Linked DNA regions of Homo sapiens. The protein of the gene in region 1 interacts with the protein of each later gene in a pairwise test. Each region holds a gene or a part of one and is shown on either strand. Other genes may lie near its edges.

Evidence for each region.
Region 2: the proteins of LAPTM4B (region 1) and CYB561A3 interact in binary tests that used the Homo sapiens proteins (3 or more experiments, as listed by UniProt).

The regions. Positions count from the first base shown.
Region 1 is NC_000008.11:97,813,763-97,820,789, forward strand, and holds part of LAPTM4B (lysosomal-associated transmembrane protein 4B), read left to right. Parts: intron 1-1,565; coding exon 1,566-1,639; intron 1,640-2,295; coding exon 2,296-2,418; intron 2,419-5,377; coding exon 5,378-5,476; intron 5,477-7,027. UniProt on the Homo sapiens protein: Required for optimal lysosomal function. Blocks EGF-stimulated EGFR intraluminal sorting and degradation.
Region 2 is NC_000011.10:61,351,856-61,358,882, reverse strand, and holds part of CYB561A3 (lysosomal membrane ascorbate-dependent ferrireductase CYB561A3), read left to right. Parts: intron 1-1,054; 5' UTR 1,055-1,150; intron 1,151-1,511; exon of another isoform or gene 1,512-1,644; coding exon of another isoform or gene 1,645-1,680; exon of another isoform or gene 1,681-2,154; coding exon of another isoform or gene 2,155-2,169; coding exon 2,170-2,353; intron 2,354-4,890; coding exon 4,891-5,099; intron 5,100-5,320; exon of another isoform or gene 5,321-5,451; coding exon of another isoform or gene 5,452-5,509; exon of another isoform or gene 5,510-5,700; coding exon of another isoform or gene 5,701-5,743; coding exon 5,744-5,898; coding exon of another isoform or gene 5,899-6,023; intron 6,024-7,027. UniProt on the Homo sapiens protein: Transmembrane reductase that uses ascorbate as an electron donor in the cytoplasm and transfers electrons across membranes to reduce iron cations Fe(3+) into Fe(2+) in the lumen of the late endosome and lysosome.

The sequences.
Region 1 (7,027 bases):
TAGTAGAGATTTAGTATGCAGATTATGTTTTCCCCTCTAGATCTCTGTCGAAAAAATGCAAAGCTTTTAGAGAAGTTGCATGTACAATGAAAACCAATATTATTTTTCTCATTGACAATAATTTGTTCTGCCAGATCTAGGAAAAGCAGTTTAAAAAAACCAATAGTTTGGGGTTCATTTTTATAAAATTATTTCTTATTAAATATTGAGTAGGTATAAAAGAATATTTATAAAATATTTATTACCCGTAGCAAATAATGGTGCTACAAGCAGTTGTGTACCTGCCAAGTTGGTTTAAGATATTTTTGTCCGGGTGCGGTGACTTATGCCTATAATCCCATAGTGACAATGCCCAGGCAATTGAAGCTGCAATGAGCCATGATCACACCACTGCAACTCCAGATTGGGAGACCAAACAAGACTCCTTATTTACCAGAGATTGACTAAAGGAAAAAAGAAGTTGAAGGCCAGGCATGGTGGCTCACGCCTGTAATCCCAGAACTTTGGGAGGCCGAGGCTGGCAGATCATTTGAAGTCAGGAGTTCGAGACCAGCCTGGCCAACATGGTGAAACCCCCGTCTCTACTAAAAATATAAAAATTGGCATGGTGGAGCACACCTGTAGTCTCAGGTACCTAGGGGGTGAGGTGGGAGACTTGCTTGAGCCTGGGAGACTTGCTTGAGCCTGGGATGCGGAATTTGCATTGAGCCAATGTTGTCCCACTGCATTCCAGCCTGGGCGACAGAGTGAGACTCTGTCTCAAAAAAATAAAAAGAAAAAAGAAAAAATAAATAAAATAGAATGAACCAGATGATATGGCTGTCTTAGAGCAAGCAAGAGAGTGGGACAAGGTGAGGCGAGATTAGAGAGGTAGACTGCTCTGGAATAAAGAGGAACATCAAGGCCTTGATAAGAAATGAAGGTTTTATTTTTATTTATTTATTTTTTTGAGATGGAGTCTCGCTCTATCGCCCAGACCGGAGTGCAGTGGCGCGATCTCGGCTCACTGCAAGCTCTGTCTCCCAGGTTCATGCCATTCTTCTGCCTCAGCCTCCCAAGTAGCTGGGTCAGCAGGTGCCCACCACCACGCCCGGCTAATTTTTTGTATTTTTAGTACACATGGGGTTTCACTGTGTTAACCAGGATGGTCTCAATCTCCTGACCTCGTGATCGCCCTCCTCGGCCTCCCAAAGTGTTGGGATTATAGGTGTGAGCCACCGCACCTGGCCGGAGTTTTTATTTTAAATAAGATCGGAAGCTATGAAGGCTTTCATTAGAGCTTTGAGGCACACATGAGTTTACAAAATAGAAGTTAGACACCTATATATCTATAAAGTAATACCTAATTCATTATTTATATAATCCAGTGGACCAGAAGAACAAACATTAAAAAAATCTGTAAACCAATATCCCTTTTTCTATTTTGAAATAATCTCTTAGTATAAAGTATTTACTAACTTTATGCTAGTTTATTTACAAAATGCCTTTGAGAAGAGACTGAAAGTATTCAGTGGATCCACTACTGATTGTCTTTTTTAAAGAAATTCTTTTTAATCTTTCGGCAGACATGTGCATTGCCATTGCGATTTCTCTTCTCATGATCCTGATATGTGCTATGGCTACTTACGGAGCGTACAAGGTAAGCCGCTTGCAGTAAGATGCTGGCCTTTTCCTTGGTCTCTTACATGTGTAATCTGTGCTGCTGTCTATAGTGAGAAGTGACTTTCCAGTTTTCTGTTAAGAATCTCTGTTTAAATCTCTCGTTTGTATTATGTGGTACTAGGAAAACCAATATTATACTGGAAATTTTTTTTTTTTTGGGAAGACGGGGTCTCACTCTGTCACACAGGCTGGAGTAGAGTGGTGTGATCTTAGCTCACTGCAATCTCCGCCTCCCAAGTTCAAGTGATTCTCCCACCTCAGCCTCCAGAGTAGCTGGGACTACAGGTGTGTGCCACCACACCTTGCTGATTTTTGTATTTTTTAGTAGAGACGTGATTTCACCATGTTGGGCAGGCTAGTCTCGAACTCCTGACCTTAAGTGATCCACCCACCTCAGCCTCCCAAAATGCTGGGATTACAGGTGTGAGACACCACACACAGCCAGTCCTGGAAATGTTCACTGAAGCTTATTTGTTGACTGCTTATATTTGGCATACTGGTTTCCACCATGACCTGGGTTAATGAATTCCAATTTTTCCATTTCCTTTCAGATTAATAAAATACTTTGAATTTAAGAAAAATATTGTTTTATAATATTGAACACATTAACTTTCTATTTTCTGTTCTGTTTAGCAACGCGCAGCCTGGATCATCCCATTCTTCTGTTACCAGATCTTTGACTTTGCCCTGAACATGTTGGTTGCAATCACTGTGCTTATTTATCCAAACTCCATTCAGGAATACATACGGCAACTGGTACGTGGACCTCTTACTGCTCCTTTTCATTAATTCTTTTCATTAGGGAAGCTGGTTAAGTAAGGGATGTGTAGAGATACACAGACATTAATTTCAGGATTTTTAGCTTGCAGCTGAGTTACTCATAGGAAATTTCTTTTTTCTTTTTTTTGAGGTGGAGTCTTGCTCTCGTCACCCAGGCTGGAGTGCAGTGATGCGATCTCGGCTCACTGCAACCTCTGCCTCCAGGGTCTCAGCCTCCCAGCTAGCTGGGATTATAGGCATGTACCAACATACCTGGCTAATTTTGTATTTTTAGTAGAGATGGGGTTTCACTGTGTTGGTCAGGCTGGTCTTGAACTCCTGACCTCAGGTGATCCACCCATCTTGGCCTCCCAAAGTGCTGGGATTATGGGTGTGAGCCACTGTGCCTGGCCTGATAAAGTTTTGAGGGCCGGGGTTATGATTGGTGGCAGTGATGGTGGTGGTTGATGTGCCTACCTAAATTATAGTCCAGTTACTAATAGTCGTATTTGGTAAAATGTAGTTTTCTCAGTTATCAACAAAGGATAGCTTTTTGCCTTTGCTAGTGTGTTGAAAGTGGGACTCTGCTCAAAAACAAACAAAATAATTAGCTGGGAGAGGTGGCACACGCCTGTGACCCTAGCCACTCGGGAGGCTGAGGCAGGAGAATTGCTTGAACCTGGGAGGTGGAGGCTGCAGTGAGCCAAGATCACGCCACTGCACTCCAGCCTGGGCAATAGAGTGAGATCTCATCTAAAAAAAAAGAAAAATCAAAAGAAAGTGGAAAGAAAGTGGAACACTGCTGTATACTAGCTCCCAAATTTGTTTGACCATAGAATCCCTTTCTCAAGCATCATTTTGGGACTAGTTTACGGTTAAATGTCCTTTGTGACCATATGAGTGAATATTGGTGGCAGGGTATTAAGAAGCTTATAATGGCTATGAGGTTGGAATAACTTTATTTATTTTTGGGACAGGGTCTCTGTCACCCAGGCTGGAGTGCAGTGGTGTGATTATGGCTTGCTGCAGCGTTGACCTCCCAGGCTCCCGTGATCCTCCCATCTCAACCTCTTGAGTAGCTGGCACTATAGGCATGCACCACCATGCCCACCTAATTTTTCTTTTTGTATCTTATGTAGAGATGGGGTTTCACCATGTTGCCCAGGCTTGTCTCAAACTCCTAGACTCAAGTGATCCTCCAGCCTTGGCCTCCCAAAGTGCTGGCATTATAGATGTGACTCACTGTACCAGGCCAACTTTACTTTTTTTTTTTTTTTTTTTTGAGACAGAGTCTCACTCTATCACCTAGGCTGGAGTGCAGTGTTGTGATCTCGGCTCACTGCAACCTCCGCCTCCCTGGGTTCAAGCCATTCTCCTGCCTCAGTCTCCTGAGTAGCTGGGATTACAGGCACCCGCTACCAAGCCTGGCTAATTTTTTGTATTTTTAGTAGAGATGGGGTTTCACCATCTTTTCCAGGCTGGTCTCAAACATTTAGCCTCAGAGGATCCACCCTCATCGGCCTCCCAGAGTGCTAGGAATACAGGCGCCCACTACCATGCCTGGCTAATTTTTGTATTTTTTTTTTAGTAGAGGTGGGGTTTTGCCATGTTGACCAGGCTGGTCTCGAACTCCTGACCTCAGGTGATCCGCCCACCTTGGCCTCCCAAAGTGCTGAGATTACAGGCGTGAGCCACCATGCCCAGCCTGCAACCTCAATCTTCTGGGCTCAAGTGATCCTTCCACCTTAGCCTCCCAAGTAGTTTGGACTACAGACATGCACCACCATGCCCGGCTAAATTTGTATTTTTAGTAGAGATGGGGTTTGACTATGTTGTCCAGGCTGGTCTCAAACACCTGCACTCAAGCAATCTGCCTGCCTCAGCCTCCCAAAGTGCTGAAATTACAGGCATGAGCCACTGTGCTTGGCCAAGTTATTTTATTAATAAAAGAGTAAAGTTGCATGATCTGATCACAAAGAATGACGATTTTATTTCTTAGATATTTTGTCCCAAGTGAAAGGAGACTGAAAACCATTAGGTGGTGTTCACCCTGGTGAGCAGGAGCCAAGCCCATGAGTCATGGGCCTTCTCCATGTTCTTCCTCAACATTGGAAACAACTTTGTTTTGGAATATTGCTCGTGAGGAATCCAAACACATAGTGTTGAATGGTGAAGGGAGATAAAAGATGAGATAGCACAGTAGGCTGCCTTCCCATTCACTTGCCTAGGCCAGTGATGTAGGCGTTGATCAATGCTGTGTGAGTGTTCTGTGGGGAAAGTCCGGCAACTCCCTCTAACCATAGTAGCAGACTTTGATCCTCCTGAAAAGGTTCCCTTTGACCTGGTTGTTAAGCATTGTGGATGGTAGTGCTTGATTATTTCCCCCCACCCTGGAAGTACTTGCTAGTATAAGAGAATATGCTGTCTTGGGAGAAGTACCATCAACAAAAATGCTCTTTGCAAAGAAGACCTCATTTTAGTAGGTTTCTGTCCCTTGCCCTGCATATGCCCTTTAGAATGGTTCAGAACTTTTGAGACATGGTCTGGCTCTGTCGCCCGGGCGGCTGGAGTGCAGTGGCATGATCTCGCTCACTGCAACCTCCACCACCAGGGCTCAAGTGATTTGCTCACCCCAGCCTCCCAAGTAGCTGAGCTGGGCGACAGAGAGAAACTCCATCTCAAAAAAGAAAAAAAAAAAAAAAAGGAATGGTTCAGAACTTGCAGAGAATACAAATTTCAGAGATCCCTGGATATACAAAATGTCCCTGGATACCGATCACTGACGTCTTTTATATGGTAAGAGGGCAGAGTCAGGCTAGAAATTTTGTATTGGTTCTAAATAATAGCTGTCTGCTTTAATCAGTTGCTTTCTGATAAGCATGTCTGAATTGGTGCCCAAGGAATACTGTCTGGAATGATTAATGAGATTTGCTAATGAGGCCCTTTTCTTTTGCAGCCTCCTAATTTTCCCTACAGAGATGATGTCATGTCAGTGAATCCTACCTGTTTGGTCCTTATTATTCTTCTGTTTATTAGCATTATCTTGACTTTTAAGGTAAGCATGAAGATTTTACTTATAGTCTAAAAATATTAAGTGTATTCCTGAATACCAAATAAGTAAACAAACTTTGGTCAGTTTATTGTCTTTCTTTGGACATCCAAATTGCTTTTTGATTTCCTAAGATTACAATTCTTTATGCTGTCTATGTTGGAGGTAAACACTAATCAAAATTCCACAGTTTGATCAAGGAGTCCAAAATATATTTGGACAGAGATAAGTTAACATAATGTTATACATTACATAGTATATGATATTGCAACGTCTGTTACAAGGTCTGTGTAATGGATATTCTTTTGTAATTTTTTGCTAAAAGTGTAATATTTTCTGAATATTGTTCTATCTCAATCCATTATATGAATATCATTATTTAATAAATTACTTGATGAGCATTGAGACATTTTTTACTTTTTCACTTAATAGGGCTGTAGTGAATATATTTAAGTACATCCTTATATTTATGCATTTATCTCAAGATAAATTTCCTTTTTTTTTTTTTTTTTTTTTTTTTGAGATGGAGTCTCGCTCTGTCGCCCAGGTTGGAGTGCAGTGGCGCAACCTCGGCTTACTGCGAGCTTCGCCTCCCGGCTTCACGCCATTATCTTGCCTCAGCCTCCCCAGTAGGTGGGACCACAGATACCCGCCACCATGCCCAGCAAATTTTTTTGTATTTTTAGTAGAGATGGGGTTTCACTGTGTTAGCCAGGATGGTCTCGATCTCCTGACCTCATGATCCGCCCACCTCGGCCTCCCAAAGCTGGGATTACAGGCATGAGCCACTGTGCCCGGCTTCAAGATAAATTTCTTAAAATCAGGGTGTTCATGGTTGGAAAGCCTTTGATAGGTTGTCAAATTGATGTCCCCCAAAGTTAAATGACTTCTACTTCCTGCAGCAGTGCCTCACCCTTATCAATCAATTGCTGCAAATTCTTTTTCATCTTGGTCAATCTGTTTATAAAACCATCATTATAACTTGTGCTTATGAGCTACTAATGGGTAGAAAACTCTCATGGCTCTTTATGCTTTCAACTTTTTTCTTTTTTTATTTATTTTTCTTTCTTTCTTTTTTTTTTTTTTTTGAGGTAGGGTCTCTCCCTGTAGTCTAGGCTGCCTCCTGCCTTGGTTTCCCAAAGTTTTGGGATTACAGGTGTGAACCACTGCACCCAGCATACTTTGAATTTTTGAATCTCAATGCCTTTCATTGTCTTAATTTTGGCATAAAATTATGTCATTCTTCAAAAATCATGCCTCAGTAAACTTGGGAAAGCTGCATTGAGGCAGAAAATTCATATAGGTACTGTGATGAAAAGGAGTAGAAAGAAAGTGGTTCATTGGAAACCAGTTGGCCAGGTGAAATGGCTCACACCTGTGATCCCAACACTTTGGGAGGCTGAAGTGAGAAGATTGTTTGAGCTGGGAGTGTGAGGCTGTAGTGTGCTATGATAGCAGCACTGTACTTCAGCCTGGGTGACAGAGTGAGACCCCGTCTTGTTGTTGTTGTTGTTGAGACAGAGTCTCACTCTGTCACCTAGGCTGGAGTGCAGAGGT
Region 2 (7,027 bases), on another chromosome or scaffold:
GTAGGTGGACCCCTAGCATGGGGAGAGCTGGCATGGCATGGCTGAGGGCCACTGAGAGGCCTGGGCAGGCACAAGGAACATGAGCTGCATGTTAGTAGTTAGGATGAAGTGCATGACAGCAATGACTAAGAATTCTATGTATATATATATATTTTTAGATGGAGTCTCGCTCAGTCGCCAGGCTGGAGTGCAGTGGCGTGATCGCAGCTCACTGCAACCTCCACCTCCCGGGTTCAAGCGATTTTCCTGCCTCAGCCTACCGAGTAGCTAGCTGGGACTAAAGGCGCGCGCCACCATGCCCAGCTAATTTTTTATTTTTAGTAGAGATGGGGGCGGGGGTTCACCATATTGGCCAGGATGGTCTCGATCTCTTGACCTTATGATCTGCCCGCCTCGGCCTCCCAAAGTGCTAGGATTACAGGTGTGAGCCACCTCACCCAGCCTTTTTTTTTTTTTTTTTTTGAGATGAAGTTTCGCTCTCATTGCTCAGGGTGGAGTGCAATGGCACAATCTTGGCTCATTGCAACCTCTGCCTCCCTGGTTCAAGCAATTCTCCTGCCTCAGCCTCCTGAGTAGCTGGGATTGATTACAGGCGCCCACCACCACTCCTGGCTAATTTTGTATTTTTAGTAGAGACCGGGGTTTCACCATGTTGATCAGTCTGGTCTCGAACTCCTGACCTCAGGTGATCCACCTGCCTCAGCCTCCCAAAGTGCAGGATTACAGGCATAAGCCATCGCGCCCAGCGAAGAATTCTAATACTTGACTTCTACAGTGTGCTACATTCATTTTCTCACTTGATCTGACAACCTGTGGTCAAGGAAGCAGCGTGGGCCTTGAAGCTAAACACACAGGATTTGGAACTCCCCACCCACTCTCACTGGGTCCTCATGCTAATTACTTATCTCTCTCAGCCTTAGTTTCCTCACGGAATAATATGCCTCCCAGGGTTAAGAGGAGTAAATGGGATCTTGTGTGTAAGGCTCTGGTGCTCGTAGCTGGTGTTCGTTATTCTTACTGTTCAAGTATTCTTACTGCCACGCCTTTCTTGCAGGTGAGTCCTGCAAATGTTAAGTGATTTGCTCAAGGTGCCCATTTCGCAGGAATTGGAGCCCAGGCCAGTTCTCTGAGCCTATCATTAGGGCTAAAGGTGAGCAGTCAAATGTTTTACCTCCGTGGGGGCTATTGGCTATTAGCTGCTTCCGAGTGAGGGACCTCAATGCAGGAAGCCACACTGTTGCCTTCTTGGTGTGAGTCCGTGGGACAGGGTGACTGCCTTGATGCCTGGGCCCGTGCTGCCTACATATTAGCTGAAAGCAGGGCCAGTCCTGTGGCTTTGCCCACTCACCTAGCGTTTAAGAGCAACTGCTCAGGGCTTTAAGCATTTGCCATGCCTGAAACCAGAGTTGGTTTCTGGGTTTATCAAGGACTTGTGGAAATCTCAAAATAAATCTCTTGCTTTCTGGACCATGAGTTGTTGCTTCCTCTTTTTTTCTCTGGACTTTCCCCAGAGGAAGAGAAAGCAGAAGTCTCAGGGCTGGAGACAGCTGAGGGGCATCAGCTGGTTCAAGGTGTGGAGTGTGGGCAGTGGAGTGAAGGCCTGGTTACCTCTCCAGTGAAGATTAGCCCCATAGAGCTTACTCTATGGGGAAGAACTTTTCTGACTCCTTCCTGTCTAGGGTAATAGTGGGGTGTTTGCTCTTTTCAGACTGTAATTTTTGCCTTCTTATCTTAGAACCCAAGGCCTGGGTGTTTGCGTAATTTAGCCTGGATTTTGATTCCTGTCCCTTTTTTCCTGGGGGGTATGGGGTGGTAATTCTTTACCTTCTGGTCCTGTGAGGGGAGAGGAATCCCAGGACTCTGGGTCTTGGGCCTTGGCATCTGGCCTTCGCCAGGGCCAGCCATAGCCTTGAGTTTGCTGCTCTGTCTGGGCACTGCCAGGTGCTGGGGTGGGGCCTCAGTCATTGTGACTGAAGATCAGGCCCACCCAGGCATTGAGGCCTCGGGCGGGGGGTGGTGCCCAGGCTGATGCAGGGGAACTGAAGCAAAAAGATTCCATCCCACAGGCCAAGAGCTAAATCAGTGTTACCTCCTTTAGCCAGAGAACTGGGTGCATCTGAGCCAGTGGAGATTTGTGACTTCTCCTTCTTCTAGGAGTGCGTGATCAGAATGGTGTCTGGACGGTTCTACTTGTCCTGCCTGCTGCTGGGGTCCCTGGGCTCTATGTGCATCCTCTTCACTATCTACTGGATGCAGTACTGGCGTGGTGGCTTTGCCTGGAATGGCAGCATCTACATGTTCAACTGGCACCCAGTGCTTATGGTTGCTGGCATGGTGGTATTCTATGGAGGTGGTGAGTAAGAGGTCAGGAAGGGAGGCGGGATAGGGCTCAGGCTGGACAAAGCTGCACTTTCCCTCTCCAAGGCTGGCCTTTGTAAATGTTGGGCTTGGGGCTATGGGGGTAGGGTGGGTTGGGCTGTCTCTGGGCCTAGCTGTCATTTGGGGGAGGAAGGGGTTAAGATGGGGGGCATCTCAGAAGGGTGGCTTCACAAATACTCTAGGGCAGGAGTTGGCAAACTTTCTATAGAGGGTCAGATAAATATTTCAGTTTTGCAAGACAGAATCTGTGTTGCAGTTACTCAGCTCTGCCACTGTATTGTGAGAGCAGCCATAGACAACACATACACACAAGTGTGGATCACGTGTTCCAATAAAGCTTTATTTGCAAACATAGGTAGCGAGCTGGATTTGGCCTTTGAGCTGTAGTGTTTTTTTTTTTTTTTTTTTTCTCTAGACGGAGTCTTGCTGTGTCGCCCAGGCTGGAGTGCAGTGGCGTGATATCGGCTCACTGCAAGCTCCACCTCCCAGGTTTGCGCCATTCTCCTGCCTCAGCCTCCCGAGTAGCTGGGACTACAGGCGCCTGCCACCGTGACCGGCTAATTTTTTTTTGTATTTTTAGTAGAGACAGCGTTTCACCGTGTTAGCCAGGATGGTCTTGATCTCCTGACCTTGTGATCTGCCCACCTCAGCCTCCTGAAGTGCTGGGATTACAGGCTTGAGCCATCATGCCCGACCTGAGCTGTAGTTTTTAACCAGCTCTAGAGAACAGGAGATTGAAGCCTCTCATGGTTTAGTCAGGCCACCGAATGAGGGACTTGCTTGCTCTTCCGGGATCCATCTTTTTTTTTTTTTTCTTTTTTTGAGATGGAGTTTTGCTCTTGTTGCCCAGGCTGGAGTGCAATGGCGTGATCTTGGCTCACTGCAACCTCCGCCTCCTGGGTTCAGGCCATTCTCCTGCCTCAGCCTCCCAAGTACCTGAGATTATAGGTGCCCGCCATCATGCCCAGCTAATTTTTATATTTTTTAGTAGAGATGGGGTTTCACCATGTTGGTCAGGCTGGCCTCGAACTCCTGACCTCAGGTGATCCACCCGCCTCTGCCTCCCAAAGTGCTGGGATTACAGGTGTGAGCCACTGCGCCCAACCTGGGATCCATCTTTGTAATCTTTGTCCCATGCTTTCAAATCTGTGCCTTGGGGCCCTGGTGAGCCTCATTTTCCCCATTTGTAAAATGGCAATACGATGCCATTGATGATAGCAGCTTACCATGTGCAGTTCACATATATCATCCCATTTTGTTCTTACAAGTTTGTGAGGTGGGCTCTGTTATATCCCTTTTACAGATGAGGAAATTGAGAGTTAGACAGGAGAGGCCAGGCCAGGCGTGGTGGCTCACGCCTGTAATCCCAGCACTTTGGGAGACTGAGGTGGGCGGATCATGAGGTCAGGGGATCGAGACCATCCTCGCTAACACAGTGAAACCCCGTCTCTACTAAAAATACAAAAAATTAGCCGGGTATGGTGGCAGGCACCTGTAGTCCCAGCTACTTGGGAGGCTGAGGCAGGAGAATGGCGTGAACCCGGGAGGCGGAGCTTGCAGTGAGCTGAGATTGCGCCGCTGCACTCCAGCCTGGATGATAGAACGAGACTCTGTCTCAAAAAAAAAAAAAAAAAAAAAGAAAGGAGAGGCCAAACAGCTAAGAGGCAGAGCCTGGATTTGGACCTATGTTGCCTGACCTTAGTACCTGTGTTGACAGCCAGCCTCACTTGTGACAATTCAGTTTGATGAAACAATGACTGTCATGATGCTTTTTAGCCTAGAAACTGCAAACAAGCTGAATTTATTATTGTGAAAATAGAATGAGAGGTCCAAGAAACCTGCTTCCCCCCTCCACTTTTTTTTTAGGAGACAGGTTTCCCTCTTTTTCAGGCTAGAGTGCAGTGGGATGATCATAGCTTGCTGCAGCCTTGAACTCTTAGGCTCAAGTGATCCTCCCACCTCAGTCCCCCAAGTAGCTGAGAGAACAGGCATGTGCCACCATGCCCGGATAATATTTTTTATTTTTATTTTTTGTGGACACAGGATCTTGCTATGTTGCCCAGGCTGATCTTGAACTTCTGGCCTCCCAAAGTGCTGACATGAGTCACCGTGCCCAGCCCTCCTCCCTTTTTAATTGGAATCTGTTTATTTATTTATTTCTCTCTGTGGCCCAGGCTAGATTGCAGTGGCATGATCATAGCTCACTGTAACCTCAAACTCCTGGCCTCAAGCAGTCCTCCCACCTTGGCCTCCCAAAAAGTGCTGGAATTACAGGCATGAGCCACCTTGCCTGACCACTCCTCCCTTTTTAACTGGCCCTTCTCTCCTCCCTTCATGGCTGTTATCCCACAAATCATGGGAGGGTAGAAGATGCCGAGGAGTTGATACCAGTGCCCTAGCATTTCCTGTTCCCTTGCTGGGAAGCTGTGTAGGATCCTATCAGGGTTATTCCCTGATGTCTGGGTGAGCTCGAGGGGAGAGGCTGAGCCCTGGCACTACTCTCTCCTGCAGCGTCACTGGTGTACCGCCTGCCCCAGTCGTGGGTGGGGCCCAAACTGCCCTGGAAACTCCTCCATGCAGCGCTGCACCTGATGGCCTTCGTCCTCACTGTTGTGGGGCTGGTTGCTGTCTTTACGTTTCACAACCATGGAAGGACTGCCAACCTCTACTCCCTTCACAGCTGGCTGGGCATCACCACTGTCTTCCTCTTCGCCTGCCAGGTGGGTTCTCTCTGTTCTCCTCCTCGAGGTTCCCAGAGCCATGAGCTCTGGTTGGGGGTTCACTTGCATGAGCACCAAATATTCCTCTGCTCACTGCTTGGAGAGGGACTTGCAGATTGTTATCTTGTAGAACTGACAGTTTATTCAAGGGCTGTGGGAGGTCAGTGGCCTGAACTTACCCTGTTCCTTTTATCCCTCCCATTGCCCGTCTCTCGTCCCAGAGCCCTCTCTGCTAACTTTGTCATGGCACGCACTATGCTGACTCTAATCAGCCATCTGGCTTCCACTTTCCCCACTCCCACCTCTGTGAACCAAAAGAATTCTTGAAGTGGTTTCCATATTCTGATCTCAGGCCTGTGCGAGTGAAGAGTTTTATGAGCAAGGACTGGAAGGAACCAGAGACAAACAAGGTGGTTGGGTTTGCTGGGAGTGGGATGGTAGCTAAGCATGTCATTTACTGTTCTTGTTGCTTGGGTAATAGGCCACAATGAGGAAGCTAGCACGGTAGTGGGCAATGCCAGGTGGGAAGGTTTGAGTTGTGAAAGAAGAGCCAGGGAGCAGAGATGGGGAGGAGGCACTGATGGGGTGGGATGTGCTTTGGTCACACATAGCACAGTCGGGTGTGTCCTCCCTTTTGTCCACAGTGGTTCCTGGGCTTTGCTGTCTTCCTCCTGCCCTGGGCGTCCATGTGGCTGCGCAGCCTCCTAAAACCTATCCACGTCTTTTTTGGAGCCGCCATCCTCTCTCTGTCCATCGCATCCGTCATTTCGGGCATTAATGAGAAGCTTTTCTTCAGTTTGTGAGTGCAGTGGGGTCCCCAACTCTAAGGTGAAGAGGAGGGAATAGGGTCTTCAAAAGATACACCCTGTGATCACAGGACTCACCCAAGGGAGGAGAGATTTTGGGGTTGGGTCCACTCCTGATCTGGAAGGTAACAGAATTGATCTTTCTTTAGGTTGAAATTGGTAAGTCAGCAGATATTTATTGAGCATCAGTTTGATTTAGCACCTGCTGTGTGTCAGAAACAGTACTAAGCACCTTACATTTAATCCTGTCAACCACCCTACATCATTGGTATTGATTGGTATTGTTGTCATTGCCATTTTCTTTTTTCTTTTTTTTTGAGATGGAGTCTCACTCTGTCGCCCAGGCTGGAGTGTAGTGGCACAATCTTGGCTCGCTGCAACCTCCACCTGCTGGGTTCAAGCAATTCTCCTGCCTCTGCCTCCCAAGTAGCTGGGCCTACAAGTGTGTGCCACCATGCCCGGCTAATTTTTTGAATTTTTAGTAGGGACGGGGTTTCACCATGCTGGGCAGGCTGGTCTCGGACTCCTGACCTCATGATCTGCCCGCCTCGGCCTCCCAGAGTGCTGGGATTACAGGCATGAGCCACTGCACCCGGCCGTCATTGCCATTTTCAATTGAGGGAACAGATTCTGCAATAGGACTGTTCAGGTAGAAATAAAAATAAAAAAAATGAGGGAACAGAGGGGTTACGTAACTTACCCGAGGGCACACAGCCAGTAAGTGGCAGAGCTGGGACTCAGATTAGGCAGTCTGACTCTAGAGCCTTGCATGCCTGACCACTACTGTCCGTTCTTTTGAGGCAATGGGGTGTAGTGAAAAGCAACTAGGACTTAAGGTCAGACCTTGGTTTCGATCTTGGCTGTGCCATTTACTAGTTATGCAACTTTGGGCAAGTTAATTTCATTGCTTTGAGCTTCAGTTTCCTCATGGGTAAAAGGATTATTACAGCTGGGTGCCGTGGCATGCACCTGTAGTCCCAGCTACTAGGGAGGCTGAGGTGGAAGGAGTCCAGCCTGGGCAACATAGGAAGACCCTCTCTCTCTCCTTTTATCCCCCCAGCCAAGAGATAGCATCTCACTCTGTTGCCTAGGTTGGAGAGCAATGGTGTGACCATAGCTCAC